Regions from separate parts of the Homo sapiens genome. Here all the other regions are linked to region 1. The links come from fine-mapping of genetic effects on gene expression. A gene starts in region 1. Each other region holds a variant in brackets. All regions are shown on one strand. Distances are between the middles of the regions. Region 1 holds the start of LINC02145 (long intergenic non-protein coding RNA 2145). Region 2 has its middle 9.2 kb from the start of MED10. Region 3 has its middle 13 kb from the start of MED10. Region 4 has its middle 19 kb from the start of MED10.

What was found. PIP is the estimated chance that this variant, and not a neighbour inherited with it, causes the effect. A credible set is the group of variants that fine-mapping cannot tell apart.
Region 2: its variant is the best candidate, but not a certain one, in a credible set for the expression of LINC02145 in testis (GTEx, PIP 0.82).
Region 3: its variant is the best candidate, but not a certain one, in a credible set for the expression of LINC02145 in thyroid (GTEx, PIP 0.52).
Region 4: its variant is the best candidate, but not a certain one, in a credible set for the expression of LINC02145 in caudate (GTEx, PIP 0.67).

The regions. Positions count from the first base shown.
Region 1 is chr5:6,334,772-6,339,284 of GRCh38, reverse strand. LINC02145 (long intergenic non-protein coding RNA 2145) reads left to right here and starts at 1,993. Exons shown (of 2, transcript NR_028351.1): 1 at 1,993-2,135.
Region 2 is chr5:6,367,080-6,371,592 of GRCh38, reverse strand. No RefSeq gene overlaps it. Among named protein-coding and RNA genes, the nearest start is that of MED10, 9.2 kb to the left of the region's middle. RefSeq lists a silencer at 4,009-4,176. The variant C/A (reference allele first, on the strand shown) is at 1,823.
Region 3 is chr5:6,389,593-6,394,105 of GRCh38, reverse strand. No RefSeq gene overlaps it. Among named protein-coding and RNA genes, the nearest start is that of MED10, 13 kb to the right of the region's middle. The variant C/T (reference allele first, on the strand shown) is at 1,767.
Region 4 is chr5:6,357,755-6,362,267 of GRCh38, reverse strand. No RefSeq gene overlaps it. Among named protein-coding and RNA genes, the nearest start is that of MED10, 19 kb to the left of the region's middle. The variant T/G (reference allele first, on the strand shown) is at 2,046.

The DNA.
Region 1 (4,513 bases):
ATGGGCACAGGCTGTGGGGCCAGCTGGCTGGGCTCACATCCTGGCTGCACCTCTCATGAGCTCTGTAAGCTCCCTGGGCCTCCCTTTCCTCACCTGTGAAATTGTCACAGCATGCGCACCTGCCCTCTGTGCCATGTGGGACTTGGGGGAACATCTCTAAAGCCCTTTGCCAAAGGCCAGTCAGGTAGCAAATGCTGTGTGAGGGTTTGGGACATAAACACACACTGGCAGCATGCCTGAGCGAAGCTTCCGTGGCCTTCTGAGTGTCTGGCCAGGTCATTCTGGGAGCTGTCAAATACACCTGGCTGTCTTCCTTTTCTGGTCACATGGTTCTGGACCCTTTGTCCTTTGTTGGGGCCATTGGCTTGTTCTGGAAGCTGTGCTGAGAGCACAAGTGATGTCGAACACCCCAGGTCAGAGTGTTACCATGCCAGAAGGCCCCAAACACAGATGCTCACCCCAAACACATTTTGCTGTTGGCTTCCTGGCCTAGATTCCAGCCAGGGATCCTCCTAAGGAACCTCTCTGGTCTCCTCCCGAGCTTGCAAAGAGAGGTCTGAAGAAAGCTTGCGATTGCTGAGCATGGGGGCTGGAGCACTCAGCGCCTGTCGCTCACATCTTATTTGAATTTCAGAAAAACAGGAAAAGTAAATGCATGAGATTTTTCTATTCAATTTCAAAGCCTTTTCCCAAAAGTGACTTTTGATAACTGTCATTAAAAGGAAATAGACACAGTATAAAAAAAAGCAAAAATCTTATAATGTAAAAATTACTTGATTTCCTCTGCTTTGCCACTGGTTTAATAAAAAAAAAAAAGCTCCTTTTCTACTTAAAGCTGGCATGATCATTGAATTCATAGACTTATGTCGCTGCTGGTCTTAGTGCTTAATATATACAGTGACTCATTCTACTTAATGGCATCAACAACAGATGCAGAGAAAATGCTTCACAAGCCCAAAGATTGCAGTTGGAAAACCCCGTGCAGTGGGAACAATTCTTTACTAGCCCTAATTGAGGGCAGCTACTCTTTGTGCTTGCCTGTGACAGTTTTTTTTTTCTCTCTCTTTTCCCTCCTCTCCTTACGTGTCCACCCAGATTCTGCAACCCATAGATGGTGGTCTGTGCAGACCAGCAGCCAGAGTCTGCCTTTGGCCTCTGATGCTGTTGTCCTCAACATATTTTCTCCTTCTGCACCCCTGCCCACAACTCCTCTGTGCTCCCCCTCCTCAGGGCTACTTCCTACCTGAGGGAAGATCAACCAGAGGGGGCTGGTGATCAGGACCCAGGGCAAGGGCTCCAGGGAGAGTGAGCTCACATTTGCTGGGAACCTGGGAGCACACGGTGCTGGGGAACCTGCCATCCCCCAACTCAAGTGTGAACGCAGAGCTGGATTTCAGCATCACTCAGGCCCTTTGTAATATTTATTTTGTGCATTTCTTTTTTTTTTTTTTTTGAGATGGAGTCTCACTCTGTTGCCCAGGCTGGAGTTCAATGGCATGATCTCCGCTCACTGCAACCTCCGCCTCCCTGGTTCAAGTGATTCTCCTTGCCTCAGCCTCCTGAGTAGCTGGGATTACAGGCGTGCACCACCATGCCTGGCTTATTTTTGTATTTTTAGTAGAGACGGGGTTTCACCATATTGGCCAGGCTGGTCTCGAATTCCTGACATCAAGTGATCCACCTGCCTCGGCTTCCCATAGTGTTGGGATTACAGGCAGGAGCCACTGTGCCCAGCCTATTATGTGCATTTTAAGACAATATTTTATAAAAGGATTAGGAACTTTTTCAGGCGGTTGAAGAGAGCTCTATTAGAACAAAAAAGGTTGAGAATTCCTGGTGGAGATAAAGTGCAGGGAGAGAGAAAAGTTAGAGGACACGCTCCCTGTCCTAGGACTTTGGGGTGGCAGGGCCCTGAGGCTCTGAGAGCAGCCCAGACTTTGCCCTTATTCTCTGTGTTTCAGGGCCTCGCTACCTTTCCAAGGCAACATCGTTCTTGGAGCACCTGCTGAGGTGCTCTCTGCTGGGGGCCGTAAGTGAGCATCGAAAAAGCTGTAAAAAGTATCCCTGCTGCTCTCCAGGGACTCACAGCATGGACGGCACCTGCATTGAGAGAAGACGGCAATGGTATCGTGATGGTGAGTCTGTTGCCGCTGTATAGAGAAATGGGGAGGGAGAACTCAATTGCAACTTGGGAAGAAGATCATCTGGGAGGAGGTGGAGCCTTTCTGTCTTGAAGGTTGGGTCTACCTCCAGGTGTGAAGGAAGGACATTTCATATACAGGGGAAAGAGGTTTAAAGTATGGAGCTGGTGTGTGTGTGTGTGTGTGTGTGTATGTATGTGTATTTGCACCTGGAAGCATGAGTGTGTGTGCACGTGTGTGCTGGCATCTGGGTCTGTGGTCACAGATGTTTGCACATGTGTGCATGTACCTCTTTGTGTGTGCATGTACCTCTTTGTGTGTGCATGTGTGTGTGGCTTATTTGTGAAACAAAACCAAAAGCCAGATGAGGAAACTTTATGGGAAGCGAAGTCTGAAGACAGATGGGGCCCAGGCTGCAGACATCTGGAGGGCCAGGCTGTGAGGGCAGGGCTTTGGCTGTGTGCGGGGCAGTGGGAAGCCTAGTGGGGTAGGAAGGGCCACTTTGAGATGGTGCAGTGGTGACAGGAGAACACGATGACTGAGGCCAAGAGCTCAGTTAATATTTCAAGTGGGATGTTGTGAGGCCTGAAATAAGGCTGACATGGAGTGGGTGGGGAGGAGGGATCTGCATCATGGGACCCCCTACTCTGGAAGTTGCTTGGCAGCTGCCCATCAATCATTGAATAGACATCTGTTGAGTTTCCTGCTTCCTGCCCTGCACTGTGCTAAGTAACAGAGGTACAGAGCATCTCAGTCACCTCCATGGTACTCAGACCCCCTCCCAATGCGGTCACACATTGCTAACAACAGTGCTGCCAAAGGAACAGCTGAGCACTATGTGTGCGGGTGGTGCTAACTCTTGCATGTGGGCTGTGCCAGGTGTGTGCCCAGCGCTTCCTCAGGAGGCATTAAGGAGCAAGCTTCCAGATACCCGCTTCTCAGCCCAGCTCTGGCTGTTGAGCTGCTTCCCCCTGTGGGATGCTGCAGCTTCCTAACTGCTGCAGTTTTCAAAGTGTGCAAATCTGATCTAGAGAAGTAAGGCCACTAGCTCCAGATGGGCCCACAGCTGTTGGGTTCAAAGGGCTTCAACGAGCCACGATTATTATCTGTGGTCTTGATAATAAGATCATTATCTTATTCTGTGTTCCTGTAATAACGACGTGTTTGTAAATGTTGACCCTGCAAGGTGACAGGTAGATAAAAATGCCTATGGTTCTGATAAATAGTCATTGGATATTTATGTCATCCAAGGGTGGTGGCTTTGGAGTGTGGAAGGTAATAATAAGACAATAATCTCGTGATAATAGTCTGAGATGAATTATATCTTTAATTATGCTTAAAATAACTTTTAAAGAATAAGTAAGTGAATAAATAAGCAATGTGACAAATAAACAACTGGTGTCAACAACTCTAGAAGTTTGGGGAAAATAAGTTTCTAAAATTCCTTGACCCTCCTTCCATCAAGAGATGGGGTCTCTGTCCCCCTTTGAATCTGGGCTCCATATTTCTTGGCCAATACCTCTTTCCCCTGTATATGAAATGTCCTTCCTTCACACCTGGAGGTAGACCCAACCTTCAAGACAGAAAGGCTTCACCTCCTCCCAGATGATATCCTTAGAGAATGGAACTTCGTGTCTGATGACTGAAGTGAGCTTAGGCCTCCCTGGCCAGCTACCAGGGCCTTCCTATGTGCTGGCACTGGGAGGTCTGTGTCCTGAGCTCGCCTGGCCCTCAGGCTGGGCACACACCGCACACCAGTGAGCAGCAGCCATGTGGTGCTGGCAGCTTGGTGGGCACAGCAGGCATGGCCACGAATCTAATGCCTGACAATGACAGGTGTTGGAGCATGTGTCTTAAGCAAGCTGGACAAGGTGTGCATCAGCCAGCAGAAGGGAGACAAGGATGAGCCTGCTGCCCATCTACACTCAGCTCCTGTCTTTGTCTTCCTCAGCCAGTGGTGAGGTGATCTATAGTGGTTCTGGGACAGTGTATTATGGCAGAATCAGGTCCTGGGAGGTGAGCGTGGCTTCCTGCCATGAGCTACCACAGCTCAGATGCCTAAATATTTAGTGCACATTCTGTTCATCTTCCTATAGACTGGGCATTCAGAGCACAAAATGCTGTTGCAATTCTTCCTCCCATAGGAGGGCATCTTGAATGTGCCAGGGCTGGTTTCCAGCCTCTCCCATCCTGCTAATGGGTGCACGCTTTCCATGAATTGCTGTGTGATGTTCACACGGAGGTACGGTGTCAAGGGGGTTTGTCCAATCTGTAAAGGGAGTGGGTAGGTTGAATGCAGCATTCTCCAAAGGGTAACCTCATGAATTCCAGGGCCTGGATGGAAATGGCAGCTACCAGGTGGAAAGGCCGTG
Region 2 (4,513 bases), 32 kb before region 1:
GCTGTTTCTGTGATCTGTGGGCCACCCTTGGAGTTGAGGCCCTAGTGCGGCCTGTGCGGAGGTTGACCTATAGACCCCTGTGTCCGAATGGCCTGGGCAGGCTTGTTATTAAGGTAGGGCCCCAGTTCAGACGTGTTGAGCCTCAGGCTTTAGGATGGGCCCTGGGAATCTGTGTTAATTTGCCTCCTACGAGCGATCCTGAACCAGCCTCGATCCTAGCCAGGGCTGCCGGAATAAAACACCACATTCTGGGTGGTTTGAACAACAAACATGTATTTTCCCACAGTTCTGGAGGCTGGAAGTACAAGCTCACGGTGCCTGCAGAGTGGGTTTCTCCCGAGGCCTCCCTGGCTTGCAGACCTGCTTACTTTGACCTCACGTGGTCGTTCCTCTGTGTGTGTCACAGCCCTGGTGTCTCTTCTGTGTGTCCTAACCTCTTTAGAATCTAAGAACAGCAGTTAGATGGTATTAGGACCCACCCGAAGGACCCATTTTTAACTTACTTCTTTGAAGAACCTGTCTCCAAATACAGTTGCATTCTCAGGTCCTGAGGTTAGGGCTTTGACACTGGAGTTTTGGAGGGATGCAACTCAGTCCAGAATACTCCCCAGGAGGGTCGTATTTACCAAGAGTCAGGGGCCAGGCCCCTTAGGAAGCTGGTCCCTCGCTAGCAGTTCTGTTCTCTCCAAAACAGCACCAGAAAAGGACTCCTACTGCTACCAAGGGGAAGAATTTCTGCTAGAGTAGAGGAGGCCCCTGCTGGCAGGTTCGGGTGCCTGAATCGCTGTTCCGCCTTGTTTTTCTGGCATCAGGATGCTGACTATTGGCTGCTGCACGAGGGCCATGTGGGCACGCGGCTCGCTGGGCTCTTCCCACACACTTCACCTGCATCAACTCACCTGGCCCTCACCAGCCCTGTGAGGTCCGGCTTTCTTTATATTACTGATGTTGAAGCTGGGGCACCAGGGCTTAACGTGCCCGAAGCCCTGCAGCTTCGCCTCCCTCTGTGCTGGTTCTGGGTGGGTCCAAAGTGTCCACAGTCCCCTCTTCCTGGGCTCTGAAACATGGAGGATGTGCCGGCAGTAGGGGCTGTTCTACATATCCTGGGACTGAGTTAATCGGGTGGCCTCAAGCTGTTTTAATCTTGATGTCTGAGCCTTGGGAAGAGAGGGTGACTGTCAGCTAGAGATGCGTATCTGGTAGCCCACAGCATGACAAGTCTGCTGACCTAGGCCCAGCAGGGGCGGTGTAGCTGTCACACATTATTCTGGAATATTCACCAGTCTTTTTTTGAGTAAAAGTTTGGGTATATGGATGCACTGCCTTGGAACTCCTAACTTTCATCAGTGTGTCTGATGACACCACCACAGTGGGTCCCCAGGCAATGAAGAGGTGTTGGAGCCCCTCGACACTGTGACAGGCCACATGCCCCTTAATTCCACCCCACCTGCCATTACTGTTAGTCACAAGTGCCCATCACTTTCAAATCTCCTGAAATGCTGAGGAATCTACTTAGCTCGGAATTGATGTCAGTGTGAGAGGACTGGAGGGTTCCAGGCCGCGTTTGACACTCGGCGAGGCATGCTGTGACTGTCACTGACACTGCCTTCCAGAGCTCTCCACCCGGAGGAGCTTGGGTTCAGGTGCACACACCTGGCTGGCCCTTCATCCCTTCTTCTCAAAGACCTCATTTTGGTTAAAAGAATGATTGCGAGAGTCATCCTGGGACGGTATCAGCCATTTCGATCAGCTGCTTCACATCACCCCTGCCCATTGCCACCCAGTTCGTTCCAATCCCTGCTTTGCTTCTGACCTCTTCTTC[C/A]CCACCCCTTTCTTCCTGCAGACACAGATCGGGCAAACAGCCCCAGGGCCTACTGATTTTTGTTATGCCCAAGGACACCGCTGAACCACCACGAGGCAGGTATGGACTCAAACAGGGCCTGAGCCTGTGTCACTGTTCTAGATAATCTGTGCTGCCTCTGTGGGTCAGAATGAAAAAGCGAAAATTAAGCCCCACCTTTACACAGAACTAGAACATTCTTTATCTTTTTGGGTGTACAATCAGAAGGGTTCATTACAGAAAACTGAAAAATAGAGCTACAAAAATCTCCACATTTCTGCCCAAATTGTTACTATTGTGATTTTCATCCATCTAGATGTTCTCCTCTTGCACAGATGTGCACACACACTGAACAACTAGATGTGGAATTATTACTATGCACATGAGTTGGTAACCTTTATTCTTTTAACAGGATGCCATGAAATCTGGGCAACTCAAACTTCCTCTCACATAATTTTAATATTTAGCGTTCCATTAATGTGCTAACAGCAGATGTGTTGTTATTTACATGCTGGACACAGGTTAAGCACTTTCCATGCATTGCCTCAATTCCCACAGTAAATCGGTGAGGTTTACAGATGAGGGACCTGAGGCGCCTGCTCAGGTCACCCAGCTAACGAATGGGAGAGCTGGGCCTGTGCCTGCCACGTCACAAGACTGTGGCTCTCCTGGGCTTAGTTTATCAGCTCCCATTGGGTACCTGTGTGCTTCCCAGTTCTTCACTAATATGAAGTTATTATCTTTGACCATACATCTTCCACTTGTTCAATTGTTATTTAGGGTAAATTCCTGGAAGTTGAGCTGTTGGAGTTACACTTGATTAGGATTGTGATACCATCTGTCTCTATTGTGCTCAAGTCCTGAAATAACCAGGTGTTAGGTACAAGGGGAAGCGCTCATCTTTGGGGAGTATCAGTAATGTCACTGAGTAGTTTATCAGTTTTCTGTGTTCTTTTTTTATTTCCATTTTTTGAATCCTATCAAATATATATGAGTGCCTCATTAAAATATTTCTACAGTCAGTGACAATACAGGTGCTGGCTACAAACGAGGTCACATGTTTACCCTGTATAGCCAGGTGAGCCTGCTGTGTTTCCTGCCACTCACCTGCACAGAAGTGACCCATCTGTCCAAGTGACAGAGGTGCCATTGCCCCAAGGGAGTTCGACAATATACAGTCCTTGGTTCTGTCAAGACTCAGGTGACGTTAGGTGGCAGGTGTACCACTTCTTAAACTTTTTAAATGTATCACAAACCTAAGAAGTTACAAAGGAAAAGATCGATACATTTGGCTGTATAGCTGTTAGAAAAAAATAAATAACATAAGGCTAAAAACACCATAAACTCAAAAGGCAAAAAAGCTAAGAAAGTTCTTTTTTTTTTTTTTTTTTTTAAAAATAGAGACAGGGACTCACTCTGGCCCAGGTTGGAGTGCAGTGGCACAATCATAGCTCACTGTAATCTTAAATTCCTGGGCTCAAGGGATCCTCCCACCTCAGCCTCCTGAGTAGCTGGGACTATAGGTGTGCACTACCATGCCCAGCTAATGTTTTTTATTTTCATTTGTAAAGATCAGGTTTCACTATATTGCCCAGGCTAGTCTCAATCTCCTGGCCTCAAGTGGTCCTCCCTCCTTGGCCTCCCAAAATGCTGAGATTATAAGTGTGAGCCACTGAGCCCAGTTGTAATACTTATTATACATATCACAAGGAACTTCATGACTACTATGCAGAGCTCTTTCACAAATAAGAAAACCCAGCAGAAGAATAGGCAGGTGTTAATTTTTACATTATATAAATTTTACATTATATAAATTTTACATTATATTCAAGCAATAACTTGAATGTCCATTAATAATGGCTTAGATAAATCGTGCTTTATCCATTTGCTGGATAACTGTGCTATGACTAACATGAATGAAGGAATGAAGATCTGTATGTATTGATACAGAAAGACGGACAAATACATAATTACAAAACACGTTGATTCAGTCAACATTAGCTGAGGGTCGGCCTTGTCCAAGCTCCATCTGAATGAGTTTCTCCAAGGCAGACTTCTGCCTACTCGTGGCAGAACCACCAAGGAGCTTATTAAAATGCTGAATCCAGACCCCATTCCAACCAGCACAGCTTCCGGAGAGCCCTCTCTTTCCTTGACTTCTAAACAGCATGCTCCAGCAGAGGTTCAGGTTTGGGTTCCTCGAGGCATCTTTCCTTACCCACCCTCTCCCTGGACAAGCTCATCTATTCCCTGGCACCGGTTACCATCCTGTGCTGAGATTCCAGGTTTATAGCCCAGCCTAAATGAGTCCTACACTTCTGTAACCCAACTTCCATTTTTTTCCCCCTCTGCTATTCCCCAGGAACCTCCAACTCAGTGTCTCTAAAATTACACAGATACGTTTCCTACCCAAGTCTCCCTCTGTGTCTGCCTCAGAAAGTGGCATGAACTTTCAGCTGGTCATATCATCTTTGCCTCCTTTCTGTCCCTCCCTCTTCCCCTGCCCTGGTATCATTGCCATCACTAAGTCTCCTAAATACCCCATTTCCTTGCTTTTATTTATTTATTTTCACTCCAGTCATACTCGTATTTCATCCTCTCAGTCCACCACACCTCCACATAACTCACCTCTTTCCTGGCTCACCTGTGCGCATCTTTCAGGTTGCAGTGTAA
Region 3 (4,513 bases), 55 kb before region 1:
GGACACAGCTCTAGTTACCTGCAGCCCCTTTTATGCCTTGCTAGAGAAGCCTAGATCTCTGCAGCAGACATGGGTGAACATGTGGAAGCCACCTGTGACTCTCAAGCTCTGTCTCCCGACTCTGGTCTGCATCATCAGTATGGAGGACACAGGCACCCACCTTTCCCCCACTGGGCTCAATTTCAAGTCAATGTCCTGCAGGACTGCTTCTGACAGGTGGGGCCTCCTTACCTGCACACTCATGCAGGAAGGCTGGTAATTGTAAGCTGAGCTTCTGGTCTCTGCATGGGAGAAGGGCTGCACTGGTCTCTGAGTACCTGCACAGGTGTCTCTCTCATTTCTCTTTCTCTTCCTCTTACAAGAAGCAAGAGAAGTTGGTTTCTCTTTCTTTTTTGGAGGCTGCAATTACAGATTTAGAGGGAAACTTGAGATGAAAAGCAAAGCTCCCCTGTCCTTTTATTCCTCACCACACACAAAGCAGCTTAGAGTAGTGGGACTCCAGCTGCATTTCTCAAGAGGGCACTATTGGCATTTGAGGGGTACACTCTGTTGTGTAGGAGTGTCTCATGGTGTGTGGTGTCCCCAGGCTCCAACCTACCCTGTGCCCACAGAGTTACTTTGGTGGGCAGAAGAATCCCTCCCTACCAGCCAGCAAAGATGTCCTTCTCTTCAGAGCCTGTGAGTGTGTTGGGTTCCATGGCCAGGACAGTTAAGGCACTGAGTGGGATTAAGGTTGTAATCAGTCGACTTTACAATAAGGAGGTGTAGTCGTCTGTCTTCACACCGCTGTAAAGAACTGCCTGAGACTAGGTAATTTGTGAAGAAAAGAGGTTTAACGGGCTCATGGTTCTGCAGGCTTGACACGAAGCATGACTTGGAGGCCTTAGGAAACTTACACTCATGGTAGAAGGTGAAGGGGATGCAAGGACCATCTTCACATGGTGGCAGGAGAGAGAGAGGGAGGGGGAAGGGCTACACACTTTTAAACCATCAGATCTTGTGAGAACTCACTCACTCACTATCAATGAGACCAGCAAGGGGAAAATCTGCCCCCATGATCCAATCACTTCATACCAGGTTCTTCCCTTAACATATGGGGGTTAAAATTTGACATGAGATTTGGGTAGGGCCATAGCCAAACCACATCAGGAGGTTATTTTGGATTATGCAGGTGGGCACAATGTAACACAACATGCCAAGGACCCTTAGAAAGCAAGGGGAAGGCAGGAGAGGCAAAGTCAGAGAGAGAGAGAGAGATGTGAGGACAGAAGGAGAGGCTAGAGTGATGGGATTTCTAGCTTTGTGGATGGAGGAGGGGCCGGGAGCCAAGGAATGCAGCAGCTCCCAGAAGCTGGGAAAGGCAGGAAGCCAATTCTCCCCGCAGCCCCCAGAAGGAGTGCAGCTTTGCAAACAGCTTGATTTTAGTCCCATGACACTCACTTCAGAGTTCTCACCTTCAGAATTTATGGACTGAGTGTGTGTTGTTTAAGCCACTGCATTTGCAGTAATTTGCTACAGCAGCAAGAGGAAGCTGGAGAACACAGTTATCCAGGTGTTGTGACACCGAAAAACACCCCCTCACCTTTCCTAATGATGCCTGGGTGAGTGGCCATCCCCGTGAAGAGCCGTTCCGCTCAGTGTTGCAAAGGTAAAGGGTGAGGAAGGATCTGGGCAGCAGGGACAGAATGCCTTTGTTTGGCCATGCTGCTGTTAGAGTACCATAGGGATTTGATGGCCAGGGGACACCTCAGAAGCCTCAATAGGTA[C/T]AGTATTGGGTTTTCAGGTAAACTAACACTAGAAGAGTTATTTATGCAATCAGCCAATCATTCAGTAACCATGTACCGAGTACCTTCACTGTGCTAATCAATGAAGAACAAAAAGAGAAATGACAGTCCCTATCCTAGAGACACCTCCAAGGGAGACATCCAAACAGATACTGATATGACAACATGACACTTTATATAAGGGTGACTACCAACATTGAGTGCTTGATGGGGGCCAGACACAGCACTCAGTACTTCACTCGCATCACCCCCAAGAACCTGAGAAAACAAATGGCACCCGAGTGGTAGATGTGGGAGCCGTGATGCAAAGCCAGGTGCATTCGTGCAAAGCTAAGATGCTGTAACAGAGACCTCAAATGTCATCACAGTAGCTAACAAATGGGGATGCCATATTCTAAGTGTTTTACATTTATTACTTCATTTGATTCTCACAACAAACCCAGGTGATACGTGGACTCAGTGTCCCCAGTGCAGTGAGGAGAATTCTGGGGCACACGGAAATGAAGTCATTTGCCCAAGGCCATACAGTTATTAAGTGGTAGGGCTAGGATTTGAACTCAAAAGGTGAGCCCCAAGTCCCTGATATACCCATTATGTCATACTATTGATACTATCTTCCTAACTGTCCTAAAACATTGCCTTGTTTTTCTCTCACTCAACTGTTCTGAGATAAGTAATCCATTTAGGTGGAGAATCTCTGCTCCACTGGGCATTCTAAGATCCATGTTCCTTCCAAACCATTGCTCCTCCATCCTCAGGGGCTCTACTGGCTGATACAGTTGCCGCTGGTGACATGTGACTATTTTAATTTTAATTAATTTAAATACATTTAAAGACAATTGAAATTTCAGTTCCTAGTTGCACTAGCCATAGCTCAAGTGTCTAGTGGCTCGCGTGTTGGACAGCACAGATCTCAAAACACTTCTATTATCTCAGAGTGTTCCACTGCTCTGGGGTACTGTCACCTGCCTGGTGGGACCAATCACCAGCACATCAGGGACAGCCTGAAGAAGATGCACCTGATGCCTCATGTTCCCACCCCGAGCAGATACCCATCATTCCTGCTCCCATCCCTTAGTGCAAAGGCCACAGCTCACTTCAGGGAAGCCTGGGTGTGTTAGTCTGTTCTCACACTGCTATAAGGACATACCTGAGACTGGGCAATTTATAAGGGAAAGAGGTTTAATTGACTCGCAGTTCCACAGGTCTGGGGAGGCCTTGGGAAACTTATAATCATGGCAGAAGGGGACACAAATACATCCTTCTTCACAAGACAGCAGGAGAGAGAAGAATGAGAATCGAGTGATGGGGGAAGCCCCTTATAAAACCATCAGATCTCATGAGAACTTACCATCATGAGAATAGCATGGGGAAAACTGCCCCCATGATTCAATTACCTCCCACCGAGTCCCTCTCATGACACGTGGGGATTATGGGAACTACAATCCAAGATGAGAATGGTGGGAAGACACAGCCAAACCATACCAACGGGAAACACAGACAGTGGGTAGCAATGGGTCTGGCTTCAATTCCATTTCTATGGCAGAAGGGCAGAGCAGGTTTCATTGGGATGCAGGCAGTAACCACTAAACGCATTCTGTCTAAAGGTGGAGACGGTTCTCAGCCTCTAGCAGATTCTCTACCTCTGAGGAGGGAACAGGGCCCAGATGTGTCAGAGCTGACCAGGAAGCTATTAATTCTGCCTGAGGCAGTAAGCAAAAGCTTCACCAACATGCTGACATTTATTTCAGATTTCCCCAAGTAAAGCAGAAGGTATGGAAGAAGACTTTAAAGCAGAGAAAAGAAACCAGCAAAGGCAAAGAGGCGGGATTGGTGAGGGTCCCATGAGGCTGTAGGGCACTGGTCAGTGGGAAGGTGGTATCAGATCAGGTGGTAAGGATTTAGAACTTGTTCTGAGGACCAGCGATTCTCAAAGGAGAAATGAGGGCTGCAGAGCAGCTTCCTGGAGGTCGACTCTTTTCACACTACTTGTCTCACCCCTCCGAGAATCCTTTCCCTCTGCCAGGGGCACATGCACCCACTCCTCTCCTCCTGCCTCACCCAGAGAATTGGGGTAATAGAGTGAGTACATGGTCATGGGGATGGGGCTATGCAGAGAGAGGATTTTAACATCCCTGGTGTAGACAGCGGGGTGATGTCAGGAGGTTTTAGGTTGAGGAATGACATCATCAAATACATTTTTGGAAGAAGGAGCCAGTATACAGCACAAAAAGGAAAGCTTGGCTTTGCACATTTTGGGTAGAAACTGATAGAAGGAAGCCACGTTTACCAAATGCCTTCTACATTCCAGGTGCCATGCGAGATGCTCCACACATCAATAGGCACATTTCTTCTATTTCCAGGAGGAGAAATCTGATGTAAGTGAATCCAGCAGGGATCTGTTCACTGGGTGCAGCGAAGTCAAAGACTGATGTTGGGATAGTAGCAAGAGAAAGTGAGGCGTTTATGTAGGGCCCCAAGCAAGGAAAATCAGGCATCCCATGTTCAAGACCCAACTCCCAGATGGCTCATAGGTGAGGGTTTTTACCAACGTGGAGGCAGAGGTTACAAGTAAAGTCATAAATTCAAATATGGAGACTATACGTTGGTTTGACCTAAAAACGTAGGACAACTGGAAGTTGGGGGCCCACAGGTTATAGGTGGATTTAAAGATTTCTGATCTGTGATTGGCTAAGGAGGCAAAGCTTTGTCTAAAAATGTGGGATCAG
Region 4 (4,513 bases), 23 kb before region 1:
GCCGTTATGATCATGAGAGCAGGAAGGAGGTCAGCTTCACCCTGCAGCTGAGCATGAAGAGGAAATTTGGAAGAGAGGCTGGGAAAACAAGGGATACACTGGTGGAATATTTATTTCTAGCTTTATTTATAGCATCCTTTGCTCAGAATCAGGAATCAGCAAAGCAGCAGAGAGGTGGGGCTGCCCCTTGAGTACCGGTTGTAGCTGGGGCTTCTCTGGTGCTCAGGCGGTCACATGTCCCTTGGTTTTCCTTCATGGCCCTGCCCTCTTCTGCTTGGCACTGGGTCTGCTTGCCTCTCCTTCTGCAGTTGGCTCCTTGGGGTTTTGTGACCACGTTACATTCTACAAAGCCATTTACTGCCCAACAATTAAGGCAGTCATGTAGGAGGAAGGCTGACTGCTAGGATCCCTCTTTCAGTAGGAGGAAGGCTGACTGCTAGGATCCCTCTTTCAGGGGGCTTTTCTGCCTTTGCATTTCTGTTGGGGAATAGTGTTTCCACTTGGGCTTGTGCTAGGATTTTTCATGATGGATTAAAAAGCGTCTCTGTTTTTCCACTATCGTTGAAGTTTTCCAGGTTTTTTTAGGAGTGAGCCATCTTATACAGGATAATAATGTCCATCATACCTTAAAATTTTGAAAATAATTTTACGTAACTTCTCTCCCTTAATTTAAATATGCACCAAAAATAATTATAAACGTATATTTACACATATGTGTTGTATTTATTTTAACTGTGATTGTCCTTTACTGTTTCATGTAGGTTTGCTGCAAATTAGGAAAGGTTCAGCTAAGAATGAGATGCAAAGATAGAAATTAATTTTTCTCCTGCAACAGCAATGCTAAGCTGTCTGCCCAGACAGCAGTAGCTCCTCACAGGCATCAGCCAGGACCCAGGCTCACCTGTCTGCTCTGCCATCCTCAGCATGGGTTCTGTCCTCACATTACAAGATGGCTGCTGCACCTCCAGGCATCACGTTTGCATTCCAGGCAGGAATAACATAGAGGGAGGGCAAAGGCCGACGGGCAAAAAGATTTCTCCTGTGGAAGCTTTGCCATTTTATTCTGGAAGGGCTGTCTTTCTCATGGACTTCTGCTCACATCTCATGGACAAGAACACTGTCGCATGGCCCCCCGCCCCCGATTACGAGGGAGTCGAGTGATCTTAGGTTTAGCTCTTACAGTCCTTAGAACAGAGGCAGGCAGGGGCAGAGAACAGAGGCAGGCAGGGGCAGAGAACTGAGGCAGGCAGGGGCAGAGAACAGAGGCAGGCAGGGGCAGAGAACTGAGGCAGGCAGGGGCAGAGAACAGAGGCAGGCAGGGGCAGAGAACTGAGGCAGGCAGGGGCAGAGGGGACTGACAAGGAATGGGAGCTCTCAGGCAGCCGGCGGGGCCTGCTCTGGCACCTTCAGGATGAGGATGGCCTGGATTTCCATTCACTGGGTGCTCATGTTGGCCCTTTCCTGTAGAAACTTACTTTGTAGGAGTGACTTAAGGCTAAAAATTGAATTTCATGTAAGTAAATTTAAACCCCGGATGCGTCATTGTGAGTTTTCAAGTTTAGTTTATCTGATGAGCGCAAGGCCCAGCACTGCGCCTCAGTCTAGACAGAGTTTGGAATAAGAAGCAGCAGCCATCCACGCGGGGCTGTCTGCAGGCTCCCTCTGGGAGTGCTGAGGAATGGCATGGTTGGTGACAGTGCTCACCAGAGGTTGCGTCCGGGAGCTGCAGAGGAGCTGCTTTGTCCGTCCATGGCCCTGCCCACATCCACGGCTGCTGCCTCCCTGGCTGGCCTCACCTTCGCCTCTGCCTAGAGTAGTCTCAAGTCAGGGCATAGATGCTGGCGGGACCGAGGTAAATAATCCGACTGGAAAAGCAAGCAGGAGTCTTCCCGATTCTCCAGGTGGGAGGATTCCCGAGTCTCAAGCTGGAGTCCTGGGAGGCACAGCCACTGTGAGGTGCCACCTGCAGCCGCAGGCAGATGGGTCAGGGAAGCAGGGCCTCCTCTGCCTGCAGTGGCTGCAGGACTCGTAGGCGTCACCCTCTT[T/G]AACGCATCACAGCTAGTTTATTTTCACCTTTTCATGGGCCATCATCTGTTCCTAACCTCCTGTTCCTCTTCTCAAGGTTGGGGGAGGTGGCTCGATGCAAAGACGGCCCCAGGGCCTGCCACATCCTGCCTCCTCCTTCCAGCTCTCTCCCCTCTCCTTCCTGCCCAGCCTTCCTCTTGAAAACGCCCTGAGCCCTTTTCCTGTGCCTTTCTCAGCCACCTGCCTGCAGAGGGGCTGCTGATGAGGAAGAGATGGTCCCTTCCCTGCCTGCGCTCCCGTGCTCACTCTGCGTGTCCACCCCATCAACCCTCCAGGGACGCTTCTTTTTCTCCCAAGATATGTTAGGGGAAGAGGCACGTATTTTAAGGTGCCCTCTGGGCAGTCTCTTTGTGCCCCAGCATTTATTAATTTGCAGCCACATGCAGCCTGGAGTGTCAGAGTCCCAAAGGGATGTTAATACAGTCGTCCACTGATTTAATCAAAAGCAGCAGCTGGGGCCCGGGGTGCGGTCGAGTTATGAAATTAAGACACAGTGCAACACACAGGAGGGCCTTTTATGCAAACTGTTGGTCTGACCACTTAAAAGTTTGGGATGTGAGTGAAAATTGAATGTTCATCCTCAGATGTGTAGCATGCTCCACTGTGAAACTAATTGCATTTCAGTAGCACGTGGAGGCCATTATCATTGCTATTATTAATAACCATTTATTAACTGTGCACAGTGTGAAACCAGAGAGCTTACTCAGCACAGAGCCCTCCATTACAGAAACTGGGCATACACAGGATCGATTTGGACCTGTTTTTTATTGCTGCTCTTGTTAAGCTTAAATAGTCTTTTGTTTGTACAAATGTTATTTTTGTGCAGCGAGCAAAAGCAGATAGCGTACTTAACACTGCTGTTTCGCACACTTGTTTTTCATGGTGAAAAATGTGAATGGTGCAGAGCTTCCAGACCCAGCCTCAGTGTTTTTAACCATGGACATCCTCCCAGGCAGACCAGATGCCCTCTACGCGTAATATTCAGGTTTGTGCTTAGAAAAATACATAGAGGATCGCATTATACACACCCTTCAGGGTTTTGCTTTTTTCGTTTGAAATACCTTTGCAAATCTTTGTCAGCAGGGGCAGGCTGGCAGGCCCGTCGGTGGTGCCCATGGCATGGAGGAGCCGCAATGTGCTTAGACTCTAGGATGCCAGCAGTGCCATGGGGTATGCCATTGTTCATTGTCCTGGACTGGCATCTGTGGAGTCCCTTGGGATTAATTTCTTAAGATGGAATTATGTGTACTTAAATGTTGCTAATTATTACCAAACTGTGACCCAAAAAAGTGTCACCAATCAGCCCTCCCAGAAATGGCACGGGGAAGTGTCTGCTTTGGTTCATCATGTTTCTGAGCTCCCAGCTCTCTGGCCCCCTCTGCAGAGATCGACCACTAAGGCTGTTTATTGAGTTTATTGAGTGTCCTTCTAGACTTTTTATGTATGCCACACTCATAGGCATGCTTATTGTGTCTCTCCTAATTCTCCTCAATGGTTGTGACAGTTTCTCCAAACTGGGGCCCAGGATGGGTGGGATCACCTGTGCGGTGCGGAGCTTGGAGCCATGGCTGCAGGGAGCTCAGGAAACCAGAGACTGGTCCCCTCTGACCCGCCCGGTGGGACCCCTGCTTTCCTATGGGGACACAGCAGCAGCATCAGTGAGCAAACTGAAAAGAAAAGACTTTTCCTTTGTGCAGCCATTAGCAGAGGAAAACAAATGCCAAATGTAGGTGTGTTTTGGCGTTGGTAGGGGGATAAAAGAAATGCATGTATGCACCGGCTGGTGAAATGGGATTTACAAACACAGTCACGACTTAGTGACAGGAATACATTAGGAAAAACCCGTCGTTAGGTGATTTTGTTGTTGTGCAAACATCGTAGCATGTACTTACACACACCTAGATGGTGCAGCCTGCCACACACCTAGGCTCTATGGGAGAGCCTGTTGCTCCCAGGCTGTAAACTCACGCAGCAGGTGACTGTGCCGAATGCTGGAAGCAATTGCAACACAATGGTGAGTATTTGTGTATCGCAACATAGAAAAGGTGTAGTAAAAATACTGTACAAAAGACAAAACATGATGGCTTCCAGCTTCATCCATGTCCCTGCAAAGGACATGATCTTGTTCTTTTTTATGGCTGCATAGTATTCCATGGTGTATATGTGCCACATTTGCTTTATCCAGTCTATCACTGATGGGCATTTGGGTTGGTTCCAGTCTTTGCTATTGTAAATAGTGCTGCAAGAAACATATGTGTGCACATATATACCTATGTAACAAACCTGCATGTTCTGCACATGTATCCCAGAACTTAAAATAAAAAAAAAAAAGAAGAGAAAATGGTTCACCTGTACAGGGCACTTACTATGAATGGAGCTTGCAGGACTGGAAGTTGCTCCGGGTGAGTCAGGGAGTGAGTGGTGAGTG